Linked DNA regions of Homo sapiens: region 1 is linked to region 2. The links come from fine-mapping of genetic effects on gene expression. Tissue or cell type: whole blood. Region 2 holds a variant in brackets; the other region holds the start of a gene. All regions are shown on one strand. Distances are from middle to middle.

Region 1 (8,161 bases), 25 kb before region 2:
GCTGTGGAACTGAGGTAGCGATGGCTGGCGTATTAAGAATGTGCTCCAAGCAGCTCAGCCTAGGGCTGAACACCCCCCATTTGGCTTCCCCTCCTCATCAGCCCCTGACCTGTGGCAACAGTGAAGCCGCAAGGCTCACCTGCCGTTCTCTGGGTCACAGGTGTGTGATAGGGGGGCCAGAGTCGCTCCCTGGCAGCAAGACCCGGAACCTGCACTTTAATTCCATGTTCCACAGCAATTCCACCCCCAGAATAACCAGATGCAATCACAGCCCAAACACACACAGGCACGTGCACACACACAGGTGCAAACACACACACATGCACACAAAGACACACAGGCCCATGCACACACAGGCACACGCAGGCACACAGACACATGCACACACATGCAAACACACAGACACAGGCACGTGGACATACAGGTGCAAACACACATGCACACACAGAGACACAGGCACACGCAGACACACTCATACACACAGAGACACACAAATAGACACACACACAGCTGAACATACACAGCTGAACACATACCAACATACATACACCGGCATGCATACTCACACATACAGGTGCACATTCACACATAGGAATGCACAAACACACGCATGCATGTGCACACTCTCACACTCTCACACACAGGTGCACACACACATCCCGGCAGACATTTTCCCTAAGCTGCCAAGGACCCATGGGAGCTGCTTCAACACCCCCATGAGGCTTCCCAGGCCCCACACCCAGGCAGGCACGTCGTTACTTCACTGACCACCCCCTCTGACCTCATGCACCTAGGCTGTAGCTTGTCCCCAGCCCAGGGCCCACACAGGAGCTGGTTAGGGTTCTCAAGGGGCCCTGACTGCTCACCTGCTGTGGGACACACCCCTACGGGGCCCAAAGAAGCTGCTCAGCCTATAGGCCGTCAAAGGACATTCAGCTGCCAGGGGTGGGTGGACACCTGACAGGTCCAGCTGCAGGACACCTCAGTGCTGGGACCCGGCATCCTCACACTTGGCCTCGGAGGCCTTTTCATGTCTGCTGCTGTCCGCGTGAGTCCATTGCTCCCCCCGCTCCCCGTGCCTCTGTCTTCAGCATGGGGCCTCCCAATGGACCTGGGCTCCTGTCCTGGTCTCCCACTGCAGACCCAGATGGCCCAGCATCTCCCACCATCCCTTCCACCCAGGGCTTCCAGTGCTACCCACCATGCTGTGTCTGCTCTTCCCAACCTCCACTGTCAGCCTGAACCTCTACCCACAAAACCCAACCCCAAACCCAGGCAGGGGTGGGCGCGGGTGCCAGGCAGCAGGGGCTTGTCCCGGAGAGCTGTCCTCCTCCTATGTGACAGCTGCCTGGCCTGGTGCTCCCAACTGCGGACGCAGAACCTGTGCAGGAAGCCGTGGAAACAGCTACAAGCAGGCAGGTGTCCCGGGGAACGCTCCTGGTCACTGACACGGTAACACAGGTGGAGCTGGGAAAAGCATTGGTGCTGGGGTGGTAGTGACCCCCACCCAAGAAAGTCACATTGACCCGGAACCTCAGAGTAAGACCTTACGTTAAAATAGGATCTTTGTAGATGTAATTCGATTAAAGATCTTGAGATTATCCCAGCTTCTCCTGGCGGCCCTTAAATCCAGTGACAGGTGTCCCGATAAGCAAAGGAAGAGACAGACACACTAACTCGGGGGAGGAGGCCCCGTGAGGACAGGGGCAGAGGTGGAGCCATGCGGCCACCACCCAGGACCGCCTGGAGCCACAGAAGCTGGAAGAGGTGGGAACCTCCGGAGCGCACAGGCCTTGATCTCGGACTTCTGGCCTCCTAAGCCGTAAGAGGAAAGCCCTGTTGTTCAACCCATTTGTAGTGATTTTCTAAGGATCCCCAGGAAACATCTTATAACGGGACACTTGGCGTGGATCACATCATTGGCTGTGAGTCGGTTTTCAGTAATTGCAGGGTTAATGGAGGCTGTCCAGGTCTGGCAGTGGAGCAAGAGCTGGGGGCCAGGAAGGGCCACCGGACGGGCAGCCATGGCCAGGTGAAGAGCCTGGAGTCCCGAATCAGGATCCACCTCTCCCTGCTGAGCAAGATCCTGTGCCCCTGTTTCTGGTGATTTTGTAAGTGCTGACTGAACCGACTGTCGCTGGGAAATAACACACCCGTGACCCCAAGCCAAAGTTTCACCCACAGACAAGGAAACAGACTCCATGAACACGCCGACTCCCGACGGTAGAACCGGGGTGCCCACCCCAGCCCCGGTCACTGTGTGTCCTGCGCAGGGGCCAGGGCAGCCCAAGGCTCAGCTCTGTCCTCCTGCCCAGACCTCGCTCAGCCCCCTGGACGCCGCCCCGCGCCCGCTGCCTCTCCTCTCCTCTCCTCCCAAAGGCTCCAGGACCATGTCTGCCTCTGAAGCCTGACGTTACCTCCCACTGCGATTTTATTGTAAACTCACTGCATTTATGTCAAGAGAGTTTGTACAGGTTTTGGAAAATGCACTGAAGAGTCCCCTTGTGCCTATTAGGACGGTAAGAACACACCAAGGAGAGATTATTTCATTATTTCTTTGATGCTGTTAGTAGGATCTACCCGAGGGGGAGGCACTCCGGGCTCCGCGGGACGAGAAGGCAGCCGAGCCCGCACCCGAGCAGGAGGGAAGCAGGAGCCGCAGCGTGGCCGCCGCACAGCTTCGGGGGTCCCCCGACTTCCCAGCTGCGAGTGTGGAATTTCTCAGGAGAACTAGACAGAAGCCCATCTCTGGGCAGCACTGAGTGGAAGGAGAAACCACAGGAGAGGAGAGGAAGTGTGGGGCGCGGGACCACCGTGGGGTGGGTGGGGGCCAAGCCGCCGGGCTGTGAGGCCTCAGCACCCCCTGCCCAGCACCCAGCACCCCAACTTCCCCTTCTGCCTTTGCGGATTCCAGGGCCTGCTGGACACCTGGTGCAGGGACAGAGCCGGGGCTGGGGGAGGAGCTCAGCTGCACTAGAGTCCAGCTGGAAGAGTCCAGCTGAAAGTCACCAGAGGCACCCCTTCCTCCTGGGGGGCTGCGCCTCGGCCTCCTCCAGGGCAGGTGCCCCTATGCCCCTCAAGTCCCAGCACCCAGCACCACAGAACCGCCCTGTCATCTCGGCCCCGGAACCTTGTGGGGAGCCAACTCCTGCGGAGGGCCGGGCAGCCCCGGGCGGAATGAGCCCCCTCCGCAAAGCCTGTCTGGGGAGCGGGGGAGGGGCGGCAGGTGCCCGGAGAAAGGCGAGATTGGAAGAGCGGCCGGGATGGTGGCGCTGCATACGGGCGACCTGCAGGGAGAACGGAAGCTGAGGCCGGGGTCAGGGGTGCGCGCTCCGCTCCTCCACTCCTGCGTGAAGGGCGGCCCACTCCCGAGCAGCTGCGCTGGGCGCCCGGCACGGACCCGTCTCCCTGCTCAGGTCGATCCCCGGCCGCGCTGCCCCCACCTGGAAGCCCAGTCCCCTGGGTGCGCCCCGCCTTGGGGTCCGAGCACCCTCACAGCCCGGCCCTGCCGCTTCCCTGCACCGTCTGCGGCTCCTTAAAGAACTGGGCGCGGTCGGGGCTCGCCCCGCACCGTCCTCGAGGCCCCGCCGCCAACCCACCCCACCCCAGGAGGCCGCGGCCGCGCTCATCCATCCCCCGCCGCACCGTCAACGCGCGTCCTGCGGGGCGGAGAGATCGGGGTCCGGTCGTCCCCGGGGGGCCCCAGAGCCAGGTGAGGGGCCCCGCCGCCCCCTGCCCAGCGGTTCCCACGACCCGCGGGTCGGCCGCGCCCTGCGCTGAGCGGATACCCGGCGGTCCGCGGGGCCTGAGCAGAGTCGGCCTTGTAAGGCAGAGGTCTCGGTGCGCCCGCGCGTCCCCGGGCCGGGTGGGGCGGCGGGGGCGGGGCTGCCAATGAGCGCGCGGGGCGGGACGCTGGGCGGGCGCCGGACGCTGGGGGCCGGGGGCGGGCCCGGGACCGGGCTGGGCGGGGCTGGGCGGTGCTGGGCGGGACGGGCGGGCGCGGGGCGGCGGCTGGAGAGCTCCGCTGAGCACCGGGTCGCGCGCGGCCGAGTCGCGGAGGCGCCTCCGCTGCAGTCGCTGCGTCTCCAAGGTAAGCGGGCGCGGGGCTCGGTCCCGCGGGCGCGGCGCGGGGGGCACCCGGGGGCGGAGACTGGGCCCGTCAGCCCCAGCAGCCACCTGCGCCGCAGCCCCTGCCCCCCGCGCTCCCCCGAGCCCCCTTCCCGGACCGCCCCGCGCGTCCCTGAGCCCCCGGATTGGGATGCCCGGAGTTCGGCGCTGCGGGCTCGGTGCGAGGACGCGACGGGGAGGCTTTGCAAAGGCCGCGAGCGGGGGTCACCGTCGGCCGCGCCAGGGACAGGTCTGTCACCGTCTCCGGGCCCTGTGCCTGGCGCTTTGGCCTTTCTTCGCGGCCACGGACGCCCCTGCAGCCCTTCCCTCCAGACCCTCCCCAGCTCGGGACTCGAACCGTTTCCCTATTCCCAGGCCTAGGGGGCCGCCGGTGTGAGGCGTGGGAAATTAGGGCGTGGAGGGCTGGAATGAAGTCACTGCCCGCAGCAGGTTTTGAGAGATCCCTGGCCACAGAAACGGCCCATCTCAGGGTCCTGACACCACCGCGTCCTGGCAGGTGGGGCTGTCAGACCGCCCCCCGCAGAGCCTCCAGCTGCCCCGGGTCTTGGCTACTGTCCGCGGGCCTGTGGCGATGGAGAGGCGCTGCCGGGACACCTTCCCGCACCCCTGGGAGCAGCGCCCGAAGATCTGAGGAGCCCTTTATTCTGCGGTTTCGGTTACGTAAACGGAGCCGAGGGAGGTGAGAAGCCTGTCCCTCCCGGGCAGTGGCGGGGCTGCTGTTTTGATAAGGGTTTTGGGGGGGCTGTTGTCTTGATGGGGGTTTGGGGGGCTGCTGTTTTGATAGGGGTTGGGAGGCTGCTATTTTGATACGGGGTTGGGGGCTGCTGTTTTGATAGGGGTTTGGGGGGCTGCTGTTTTGATAGGGGGTTGGAGGGCTGCTGTTTTGATAGGGTTGGGGGACTGCTGTTTTGATAGGGGGTTGGGAGCTGCAGTTTTGATAGGGGTTTGGGGGCTGCTGTTTTGATAGGGGGTTGGGAGGCTGCTGTTTTGATAGGTGGTTGGGAGGCTACTGTTTTGATAGGGGGTTGGGGGGCTGCTGTTTTGATAGGGGTTGGGGGCTGCTGTTTTGATAGGTGGTTGGGGGCTGCTGTTTTGATGGGGTCTGGGGGGCTGCTGTTTTGATGTGGGGTTGGGAGGCTGCTGTCTTGATGGGGGCTTAGGGGGGCTGCTGTTTTGATAGGGGGTTGGGGGCTGCTGTTTTGATAGGGGTTGGGAGGCTGCTGTTTTGATAGGGGTTGGGGGGCTGCTGTTTTGATGGGGTCTGGGGGCTGCTGTTTTGATGAGGGGTTGGGGGCTGCTGTTTTGATACGGGTTGGGGGGGCTGTTGTCTTGATGGGGGTTTGGGGGGCTGCTGTTTTGATGGGGGTTTAGGGGGCTGCTGTTTTGATGGGGGTTGAGGGCTGCTGTTTTGATGGGGGTTGAGGGCTGCTGTTTTGATGAGGGTTGGGGGCTGTTTTGATGGGTATTTGGGGGCTGCTGTTTTGATGGGGGTTGGGGGCTGCTGTTTTGATGGGGGTTGGGGGCTATTGTTTTGATGGGGTTTGGGGGGCTGCTGTTTTGATGGGTATTTGGGGGCTGCTGTTTTGATGGGGGTTGGGGGCTGCTGTTTTGATGGGGTTTGGGGGCTGCTGTTTTGATGGGGGTTGGGGGCTATTGTTTTGATGGGGGTTGGGGGGCTGCTGTTTTGATGGGGTGTTGCGTTCCCTCTCAGTGTCACCGCTGATCCACCTGGCATGTTTATTGGCTCTTCTGCTTGCAGGGCCCCTGGGGGACCGATAGAGGACTGGGCCCCTCCGCCCACCCCGGCCACCCCTCCCCGCCTGACTTCTCAGGGGGAGAGGTCTCCCCCCACGCCCAGCCAGCCCCTGCCCCTGGGAGGTGACCCAGCTCCCTGTGGCCTGGGACTAGGAGATGGGGCTGGACCAAGGCCGGGAAGGGGCAGGAAGTGGAGGGGAGTGAGGCAGCTGCAGCCTGATGCCGCCGCCTTGAACTGGGCTCTCGCGCCTGTCAGCCGCTCGGTGCCAGCGCCTCCCCACCACGTGATCCTCGGAGGGCCTGTGGGGGAGGGGCGGGCTCCCGGAGCGGCTGCAGAAGGCGAGCTCCAGGAGGGTGTGTGCGTTTTCCCGGGAGGGGTCTGCAGCTTTCATGGTTTCTAAACGGATCTCTGATTCAGAAAGGCGCCGGCATGAACTCGCTTTGCATCTTCACAAAACATGAAGTCATGGGGATTGGACCGCGTGTGCGTGGAGGAAGCTCCGCTGGTCACTGGCTGCGTTTTAATCTTACAGCTGCGGTTGGTCTATCTTCCCGAATTCCCTGAAGTTGCAATAAATGTTTTAGCGATTATACGAGGTTATAAATGCTCGTTGTGGAAATGAGCATAGAATGCTCACAGAAATGGTCAACAGGGGCTTCCTTTTGACCCCCTACCCTAATTTGCAAGCCTCACACTGGCAGTGGCTGCCCTAGGCCTGGGAATCGGTAAACAGGGTTCGTGCACCGGGCTGGGCAGGGCCCGGAGGGAGGGGCCGCAGGGGGCTTCCGTGGGCACAAAGGCCAAAGCGCCACACGCAGGGCTCAGGAGAACTTCCTGAAGAAAATTAGGATCACCCATCGCAGATGGAGACTGGGGAGCTCTCTGGAGAGTCAGGCAGTCTGTTCCCTCCCAGGCCTGTGGGAGCCACCCCCTGCAGAGGACGCAGAGAATTAAAAGCTTCCTCGGGAGAGGCCGTGCCAGCAGAGAGCCGAGTCTATTTATAGCTGTTGGTGAGACAGGGGGAGTGTGTGAGAGGGATGCCATCTGGGGCTCTTGGGGCCCCCAGGCCAGTGCTGGTCAGCGCCCTGCAGTACCTGGCCCAGCCTGGTGCCCTCAGGCAGAAGCGCCTTCGGGAAAACACTCTGGGTGAGGAGAGTCGCTCAATGCCTCCGCCTGGGCTGGGGGAGCCAGAAGGCTATGCCCAGGAGGGTTGTGGCCGGGTGTCTAGTCCATCTGAGCCCACAAACCCTCAGCCAGGAGCCAGGATCAGGCAGCAGAATCTACACACGCCTAGTTCCTACTGCTCGAGCAAAAGGTGTTTCCTGGGAAGGAAGGGGTGGAGCTGCCTGGGTCAGGCCCAGCCACATCTGGGGCTCAGGCCTTGTCCCCAGCATCCACGAGCCAAACCCCAAGCTGCCCTGCGTGGATCCTCCTCCTAGGGAGACCAGCTTCTTCTTGGTGTGTGTGTGTTTGGGGTTGCCACAGGGCCATAACCCACTGCATCCCCCTGATAAGATCTTCCACCCAGGGCAGCCCCCACCCAGGGCAGCCCCCACCCAGTTGATCCCCCACCCAGATGATCCTCCACCCAGATGATCCCCCACCCAGATGATCCCCCACCCAGATGATCTGCCACCTGGATGATCCCCCACCGGGGACATCCCCCACCCAGGGCAGCCCCCACTCAGATGATCCCCCACCCGGGGCAGCCCCCACCCAGATGATCTCTCACACAGGGCTTCCCTCCTAGGGCATCTGCAACAGGCTTTCCCCCTAAGGTGACATCCCCCTCCCAGGACATCCACATCCCAGAGCCACCCCCTCCCAGAGCCACCCCCTAGGCCATTCCTTCACCAAGGCTCCACCACCCAGGACAACCCCCACAAAGATTCCCCACCCAGAGCATCCTCCCCACATGGCATCTCCACCCAGGGTATTCCCCCACCCAGGGCATGTTCCCCACATGGCATCCCACGTTTGACTTCTTGGCATGATAAAAGGTGCCTGCCCATGTGGGCTCCATGAGATCCCCCAGGGCGCATGGCATCACAGACCACATTTCCCAGATCCTATAACCTGTAACCCCAACCTGCTCGTTTGTTCACAAATGTCCAACGTGGCCTCCGCCCAGGGAGTGCCACCAACAGCCGCACCTGCCAGGCGACTTCACACAGCTGCTGTCCCCCTCTGGCCATCAGTCATCAGTCAATGGGGCCAGGAGCAGTGAGCACCGTGTATGGGGTATGGAGGTGGCTTCAAACCCAGGCCCTGGTCCAA
Region 2 (8,180 bases):
TGGCTGGGAGCCCTGGCCTCCCCCAGGACCCACGCTTGTGTGCTGGGTGTGGTGTATTTTCCCAAGTAAATGCACTGACGTTTCCTATAGACACCTGGGTGGATACTGGGTGGTGGCTTGGCTTGGGGGTTAGACTGATACCTGGACGCTGGTTAGAAGGAAGCCAGGGCCAGTGGGAGACTGAGAACAGCAGGGCCAGGCTCCCTGGGGTCTGCGGTTGCCCCGAGCGTGGAGGGCTGCTGAGCCTGGTACACCCCCCCGGCCAGCCGGCACTGGGGTCTGTGGTCACCCCAAGTGTGGAGGGCCGGTAGGACACTTTGTCCTAAAGTCTTCGGACTGTTCCCAGTACGGAAGCCAACCCAACCACCTCCCAGGAGCAGGACCCAGGTTTGGAGAGAATCCAGGTCACAGTGTGTTTGGAGGGCAGCCGCCACAGGGCAAGTGAGGTCCTCAGAGCACTGTGTGTGACGTCCTCCTGTCTGTCCATCCCAGAAAAGCAGGTGTCAGCTTCCCTGGAAGGGGCCAGGAGCCTCAGGGCTGCATTGCTCCCCTCCCCCTCCCCCGTGGTACCCAGCCCGGGGGAAGGGTGGGCTGCACTCCCCACACCCAACCCTGTCCCTCCATTGCTGTGGGTGCCACCCTGTCCCGGGCTTGCACTCGGCGGCTCTGGAGCCCTGGGGCCAGTTCTGTCTTTGGGGAGCCTCTAGTGGCCACGCCTGGCAGGGCAGGATGAACGTGGCTTCCGCAGAGTGGAGCCCCTGCGGGGGGACCCTTGGCCATGGACGTCTGTGGCTGAGGGTTCAGGAGCTTGTGGCCTCACAGTCAAGGCCTGTGGCTCCTGTACCCTGCAGGCCGGGCAGCACCAGCAATCCCCAGAGCACTGTGCGGCGACAGGCACCCGTCTCCTGCGCTTGGCCAGTGGTGGGCGTGGCCTTGGCTGTCCACTTTGCCCCATGAGCCTGACCAGGCAACACAGGTCATTTGAGAAGGTGATCTCCAAACAAACAGCCAGAAACTGACTTCAGGTGCACAGACCAAAGCCCTGCCCAGGCCGAGACTGGGGTGGATGGAGGCAGCCGAGCCCCTGGGGCCCCCTAGAGAAGGTCGGGCCCCTCAGATCTGCCCGGGGTCCCTCTGGGCCCCAAGTCCACGTCCCACCAAGGGCCACCTCTTCCTAGTGATGTCCACAGGGCGGTGACTACACACGCCCCACCCCCGCCCCTCCCCAGGAAAACGAAAAGGCCGGCAGCAACGCAAAATTAATTAGCAGCAAGCGCAGGGTGTGCGCCCAGAGGGAGACAGTGCGCTGATCCCAGGCGGCCCCTCAGGCAGGGGGGAGCCTTCGGTAGCCAGACCTCCGGAGCTCAGGCAGCCCCCCGACCGGCTGTGTGGGGGCTTCATGGTGGGTGTGCCTGGGGTTAGAGCTGGTGCAGCAATGGGAGGGCCCTGGCCCTCAGCCCGCCCTGGGGCCTGAGCTGCCGTGGCCCAGTGGACGTTGCCATCCATCCTCTGAGCCAAGTAGGGTGCAGGAAGGGCTCCGGTTTCCTGAGATGAGGGGAGAAGCCCTCTCAGGTGGCCAGACATCACCTCACCTGCCCCCAGGTGCTCAGCTGCTGGTGGAGTCACTTATGAGGGGAGAATAGGCAGGGCCTGGAGGGCTTGCCACCGACCTCTGTCGGCCCCGGGAAACGTTGCTCTAGGTCCTCTGTATCTTGCTGGGGCTTGCGGGAGGCAGGGGCGGCCAACAGGCATGGGGAACCCCAAGGCTGGGTCCTGCTGGAACGGGACCACTGGACCCTCCTGGAGCAGTGAGAACTCGGAGCGACGTGCAGGATGGCGATGCCAGACAGGGCTCCCCTAAGGCCGCGTCCCTACCAGGTAGGAACCTCCCCAGAAGCTCCCCCTCCCCCCGTGGGGCCCAGCAGCCAGGGAGTCCTTCCCAGCCTCCTCAGGTCTCAGGGGCTAATGGAAGATCCCAGAGGTTGGTGCCCTGGGGGAGCCGCAGCCCCTCTCTCTCAGACTCGCCTAAGTACAGGGAGAGGCTGTTTCCCCAGAGATTCCCCTCCACAGCCCCCAGCTTCCCACCTGTGGCAGCCTCTGGACAGGGCACTCCAGCCACAGCAGCTGCAGGCCCAGAGAGCCCAGGGGAGCTGGTAGCTGTCACCTCGCCCGCCGGCCCCCGCCCCTCAGAGAGGGCACCATGGGAGGGCATTCCTGATTCACAAGGGTGCTGGATGCACAGTCCCGAGCCCAGCGGGGCCTGTGACGTCCGCCCCGGAGGAACAGGCCTCAGTCCTCGGAGGGCTGTCCTGGCCTGAGCCCAGCTCCTGGAGGCCCCAGGCCGGGTCCCAGTGTCCCTGAGAGACTGAACCAGGCCCAGAGGCCAGGGGACTCAGAGCCTGGGAAGCAAGTCCAGGCCCCGCAGGGCATCGTGTATGAGCAGCGGCTGCGTCCTGCTGGGCCGGCTTTGGGGCAGGGCGCCGGGCTGGGGAGAGCATGGGCAATGAGGATGCCGAGCTCCACACTCGGAGGCTCCTCCAGCACCCTGGTCTCTGGAGGACAGGCCCACTCTATGTCAGGAGAGCCGGGCAGCCAGACTGAGTGTCTCTGGGGAAGAGGCAGGCACCGCTGTCCTAGAACTCCTGAGGACTGCCCCAGGCGGGGGGCACCCGGGTCTCCTGGGGAGAGCTCCCCGCCCGTGTGGGGCAGAGACCCGGGCGCCCTTTCCCCGAGACACTCGGGGAGCGCGCAGAGCAGGTGTCCGGATCTGAATGTCGCCTCTGATGGGGGAGCCCCTCAGCCATCCCCCTCCCGCCGAGTGACTCATGCTGGTGGTGCCTGGCTCCGAGGCCGTCAGAAAGGGCTGCGTGCCTCAGCACTGGTCACCAGGCTGGCAGTCAGGCCTGGCGTCCGCATGTCAGCTTGGGCAGGGTGGGAATAGAAGACAGGAGAGCCTTTGACGGCCCAGGACAGACAGAGGCCCCAAGGGCCCCAGAGAGTCAACACCCCCACAGGGCCCAATGGGCACTGTCAGTTCCAGGCACTGTGGGCTGCCTGGGGTGGCCTGGCTCTTCTAGCACCACAGGGAACGTGCGGGTGTCCACGCCGAGCGCGTCAAGGGGCTAAATCCACCCCCAACACCGCGGACCCCCACGCCACAGAGCTGCCCAGGGCACCTCCGGCTCACCGGGCTCACCAGCGCCCCCTGGGGGATGCTGCTGGACAACAGCGCCCTATGGCCGGCGGGTCTGGAATGTGCCCTGCGTGGCTGCCCTCAGCAGTCCAGGCCCCGCCCTGGGGCTCTGTCTCCCCA[A/T]AGCCCCCTCCGGACACAGCGAGGCCTCCGCTCCCCTCCCTGGGACCCCATGAGGCGTGAGGGTCTGAGCTGTGGGACCCCGAGCACTTGGTGTGTTTCTCAGCGCGATTTCTTCTTTGGCTCAGCGCTGTTGATGGTGTCTGTTGTGTCTTTAGGACACGCGTGTAAAGTGTATGGGAACCCTCAGGTGCTGTTTAAACACAGCATCCGCCTTGGGGTCTGGGAATCACCCAGCGGCACCTCCGTGCCTGGCTCCAAGCCTGGCCACTTGGCACCCACCGCGTTGGGTGCGTATCCTGGGCTTGTTCTCGAGGGGTGGGGGTGCTGTCCACGTGCGCACACATCACAGCACTGTGGTCTGGCCGCTGCTGAAGGGCACTGGATTGTTTGGGGTTTGGTGACTACGAGCAGAACAGTGGTAAACATTTGCGTTTATGTGTGAGCCTCTGTTTTCATTTCTCTTGAGCAAGGACCCAGGAACGGGACTGCTGGGCCACCTTTGGCTGTGATGAGAAGCTGTCCACAGTGGCTCTGCCGCGTTGCTCGGCCGGGTGTGGACGAGGCCCCCACCCCGCGGCCTGCTCAGCTCGAGGTGCCGGCAGTTTATTTGATTGTCTGAGCCCCCTGGAGAGTGTGCAGGGGCCTCGCTGTGGTTTCCATCTGCACTTCCCTGACGGCGCCCACGCGGCCCCCTCTCCGTGTGCTTGTCCGCACTTCCCTGACGGCGCCCACGCGGCCCCCTCTCTGTGTGCTTGTCGGTACTTCCCTGACGAGGCCCACGCGGACCCCTCTCCAGTGTGCTTGTCCGCACTTCCCTGACGGCGCCCACACGGCCCCCTCTCTGTGTGCTTGTCGGTACTTCCCTGACGGCGCCCACGCGGACCCCTCTCCGTGTGCTTGTCCGCACTTCCCTGACGGCGCCCACACGGCCCCCTCTCTGTGTGCTTGTCGGTACTTCCCTGACGGCGCCCACGCGGACCCCTCTCCGTGTGCTTGTCGGTACTTCCCTGACGGGGCCCACGCGGACCCCTCTCCGTGTGCTTGTCGGTACTTCCCTGATGGGGCCCACGCGGACCCCTCTCCAGTGTGCTTGTCGGTACTTCCCTGACGGCGCCCACACGGCCCCCTCTCTGTGTGCTTGTCGGTACTTCCCTGACGGCGCCCACACGGCCCCCTCTCTGTGTGCTTGTCCGCACTTCCCTGACGGCGCCCACACGGCCCCCTCTCTGTGTGCTTGTCGGTACTTCCCTGACGGCGCCCACACGGCCCCCTCTCTGTGTGCTTGTCGGTACTTCCCTGACGGCGCCCACGCGGACCCCTCTCCGTGTGCTTGTCTGTACTTCCCTGATGGGGCCCACGCGGACCCCTCTCCGTGTGCTTGTCTGCATGCACGTGTCTTCTCTGGTGGTGTCTGCTTCAAATATTCTGCCCGTCTTTTCACATGGATTTTTTTTCTTACTGCTGAGTTTTAAGGTTCCTTTGTGTATCTCAGAGACAAGTCCTTTCTCAGGCATGTCTCCTAGTCTGTGGCTTGTCTTCTCATTCCCTTAACGGTGTCTTCTGAGAGCAGAGTTTCGAACGTTTTGATGAAGTCTAGTTCATCCATTTTTTCCACTATAGGCCATGTTTTGTTGCCATTTCTAAGAAATCTTCGCCTAACCCCAGGTCACAGAGATCTTCTCTTTGGTGTTCTTCTAGAAGTTTTAGTTTCATAATTAGGACCGTCATCTATTTTGAGTTAGTTTTGTATATAGTGTGCAGTATAGACCAAAGTGCATTTTAATTTGCACAGGGATCACCAGTTGCTCCAGCTCCACTTGTGGAAGAAACAGTCCTTTCTCTCTGGCTTGCCTCTGCACCTGTAGACATCGGGGGGGCAGCATGCATGTGGCTGAGCCAGACTCCCCCTGGGCTGCGGGGCTGGCCGCGTGCCCGTGCCCACGTCGCTGCCACTTTGCAGTCAAGCCTCGATGAGCTTTGGAGTTGGGTAGTCAGTCTTCTGACTCTGTTCTCATTTCTTGAAATCGTTTTGGCTATTCTAGGCCCTCTGCTCACTGACTTCTGGAAAGGCTTGCTGGGGTTTTATGGGTCATTTGTCCCCTGACTCTTGGTCACTGTGGATTCTGCAGCTGGGAGTGCCCTCGGAATGCTTGGCCTGCTGGGTGCAGCCTTTCTCGCGCTGTCCAGAGGCTTCCCTGGTGAAATGCAGGTGCCTTTTGCAGAGCTGAGCCTCATCCACAGGATCTCTTGTTTTAAACACTGAAAAACCCCACTTTGGGTTAGTTGTGGTAGATCTGGTCAGAGGAGAAAAATGTTTTCTAATTAGAATTATTATATAAAAACCAAGAGTCAGTTTAGAACCCTCTAAAATTGCCTGAATGGCCTGTGGTGGGAGGATGTTGTAAGGCGTGGACTGTGTTTAGATGTGGCGTGTTGTGTGACCAGAAGCTTCTCATGGCACCTCCGGCCCACCGGGCTCTGCACCTCTGAGGCCAGAGCAGTGCAAGGGCACAGCGGGGCCGCCTGGCGGGTTTTGGAGCCAGGGCATCTGAGGCGTGGGCCTGCGCCCATGCTGCCAAGTGTCCGGGGGCGGCAGCCCCTCCTAACCATGTTCCTGTGTGGGGGACACCTCCACCTAGGACCCCAACACACACAGGCAGAGCCGGGGCCCCAGCAGGTCCTAGGACCCCCAGCTCCCGGCGCAGCTGGGCGGGGCTGTGGTGGCCCCGGGAGGAGGAGGTGGGCTCCGCTGCCTAATGGCCTCCGGCACTGCCCCAGCAGAGTGCAGACCCGCACACACCCTGTGTCAGAGCGGCCTGCAGGGCCGTGTGAGCATCCAGCTTTATAGAGGACCTGCTTCCGCCAAGCTTTCTTCCAAGACAGTTTGGATTTGCAGTGCTACCAGGGCGGCCGCCTGTGGGTGAAGCCTGTGGGCTGCTGGGCCATGGCTGTCCAGCTCTGCTCAGACCCACGCGTGGGGAGGGCAGCCCTGGGCCGGCCCGCGCCCAGCCCTAAGTCGCCTGTGCCCCTGTAGAGGGAAGTCTTGCCGGACCATCACCTTTGAGCAGTTCCAGGAGGCGCTGGAGGAGCTCGCCAAGAAGCGATTCAAAGACAAGAGCAGCGAGGAGGCCGTTCGCGAGGTGCACAGGCTCATCGAGGGCAAGGCGCCCATCATCTCAGGGGTGACGGTGAGCAGGGCGGGGATGGAAGGCGGGGCCTGGAGGGGGTGGGGGCGGGGCCTGGAAGGTGGGTGGTGCCTGGGGGAGGGGTGGTCAGGAGGGACATGGATTGGGGGCGTGACCTGGGGGGGGTCCTGGGAGGCGTGGTCAGGAGGGCGTGGCCTGGTGTGGGGTCTGAGGAGGTGTGGTCAGAAGGGGCATGAATGGGGCATAGCCTGGAGGGTGAGGCCTGGGGAGGCGTGGTCAGGAAGGGCATGGACTGGGAGTTGGCCTGGGAGGGGGTGGGTGGGTCCTGGGAGGCATGGCCAGGTCGGCGTGGCCTGGGGGGGTCCTGGGGAGGCTTGGTCTGAAGGGGCATGGATTGGGGGGGCATAGCCTGGAGGGTGGGGCCTGGCTGTTCTGACAGCCCCTTCCCTCTGAGGGTGCAGGTGGTGGGGTCCCCAACTACATAAACACCAGGTGGACCTGGGCAATTGTTAGGGTTGTGGCACCCCGCAGGCCCAAGGCTGCCCCAGGGTCAGGAGAGGTAAAAATAAGAATTAAAAGGGGCATAAATCCCAGGGTTTATGCCCCTTGCCCAGTGCCCCACCGCTGGGAGACCTGCCCAGGGCACAGCCATTTCACTTGCTGGCCTCACCTGGCTCGCAACTCACCTGCCCCCTTCCTCCTGCTCCTCTTGCAGAAAGCCATCTCGTCGCCCACAGTGTCGAGGCTCACGGACACCACCAAGTTCACGGGCTCCCACAAGGAGCGCTTCGACCCCTCTGGCAAGGGCAAGGGCAAGGCTGGCCGCGTGGATCTGGTGGACGAGTCAGGCTATGTGTCCGGCTACAAGCACGCAGGCACCTACGACCAGAAGGTGCAAGGGGGCAAGTAGCCCCCGCTCCATGCCTCGCGGCACTGCCGGTGTCCCCAGAGCAGGGACTCTGTCACCTCGCACTTCATTACATTCCTGTACTAACTGGGGCAGAACTCAGACGGGTGCCCCAGAGGGGGCTGGGGGGCGGCCAGGCCCAGGCCTCCCTCCTGCCCCTCCTCCTACCGGATGCCCCCAGCACTCCCCTCTCAAACCAGGTTTGGGCCCCAGTTCGCTGACCCTCCTAATACACCTGCCTCGTCCTCAGCCATTTCCAAAGTGTCTCGCGGATCACACCACACTGGGCACGTGGTTTGCAGGTCAAAGGGGCGTTTTAAAGCAGCTGGCTGTCATGGCAACAGGAGGCTGTGCTGACCTCCTGAGCGGCAGACACCTTCCAGGAGCCCTGAGGGTGGCAGGAGCTAACCCCAACCAGCAGGCAACTAACACGGAATTGGCCCCACACCGGACGTGGGAGGTGTCTGTGGGGCCCGAGGCCTGTCCTGTGTGCAGCGGACACCACGGGGCCTTCCTGCTTTCCTGGGCAGAGGGCAGAGTGAGGCCACCTGGCGGGGGTGCTGGGCGCCTGGCACATGTGTGGGGAAGCCGGTCACATGGACACACCTGTGCACACATGCCTACAGGCCAGCTCTGTGCCAAGGGCAACCTAGGTAAAACGAAAGCCGTCAGGGGCAGTGGGCGGCTTCCCGGCTGACCACAGTGGCTTGGACTGTGAGGGTAGAGTAGGCTCGCTTTGCTTTCCTGAGAAGATGCGGTGGCTGCCTATGTTCTCAGAGCGGGTCTGGGAAGATTCAGAATGTCCGGTCCCTGT

What was found. PIP is the estimated chance that this variant, and not a neighbour inherited with it, causes the effect.
Region 1: TPPP starts here. The variant in region 2 is fine-mapped to the expression of TPPP in whole blood (TOPMed, PIP 0.98).

Annotation. Positions count from the first base shown.
Region 1 is chr5:689,207-697,367 of GRCh38, reverse strand. It overlaps TPPP (tubulin polymerization promoting protein), which reads left to right and starts at 4,016. Exons shown (of 4, transcript NM_007030.3): 1 at 4,016-4,090. LOC101929898 (a long non-coding RNA gene) reads right to left here and starts at 3,828. Exons shown (of 2, transcript XR_925675.4): 1 at 3,646-3,828; 2 at 1-3,287. RefSeq lists enhancers at 2,216-3,094, 4,008-4,590 and a silencer at 3,764-4,013.
Region 2 is chr5:664,291-672,470 of GRCh38, reverse strand. TPPP (tubulin polymerization promoting protein) reads left to right here. Exons shown (of 4, transcript NM_007030.3): 3 at 6,348-6,501; 4 at 7,175-8,180. The coding sequence ends at 7,369. It also overlaps a transcript of CEP72 not described here. Among named protein-coding and RNA genes, the nearest start is that of TPPP, 25 kb to the left of the region's middle. RefSeq lists enhancers at 1-78, 676-845, 1,208-1,377, 2,666-3,420, 6,831-7,000. The variant A/T (reference allele first, on the strand shown) is at 3,314.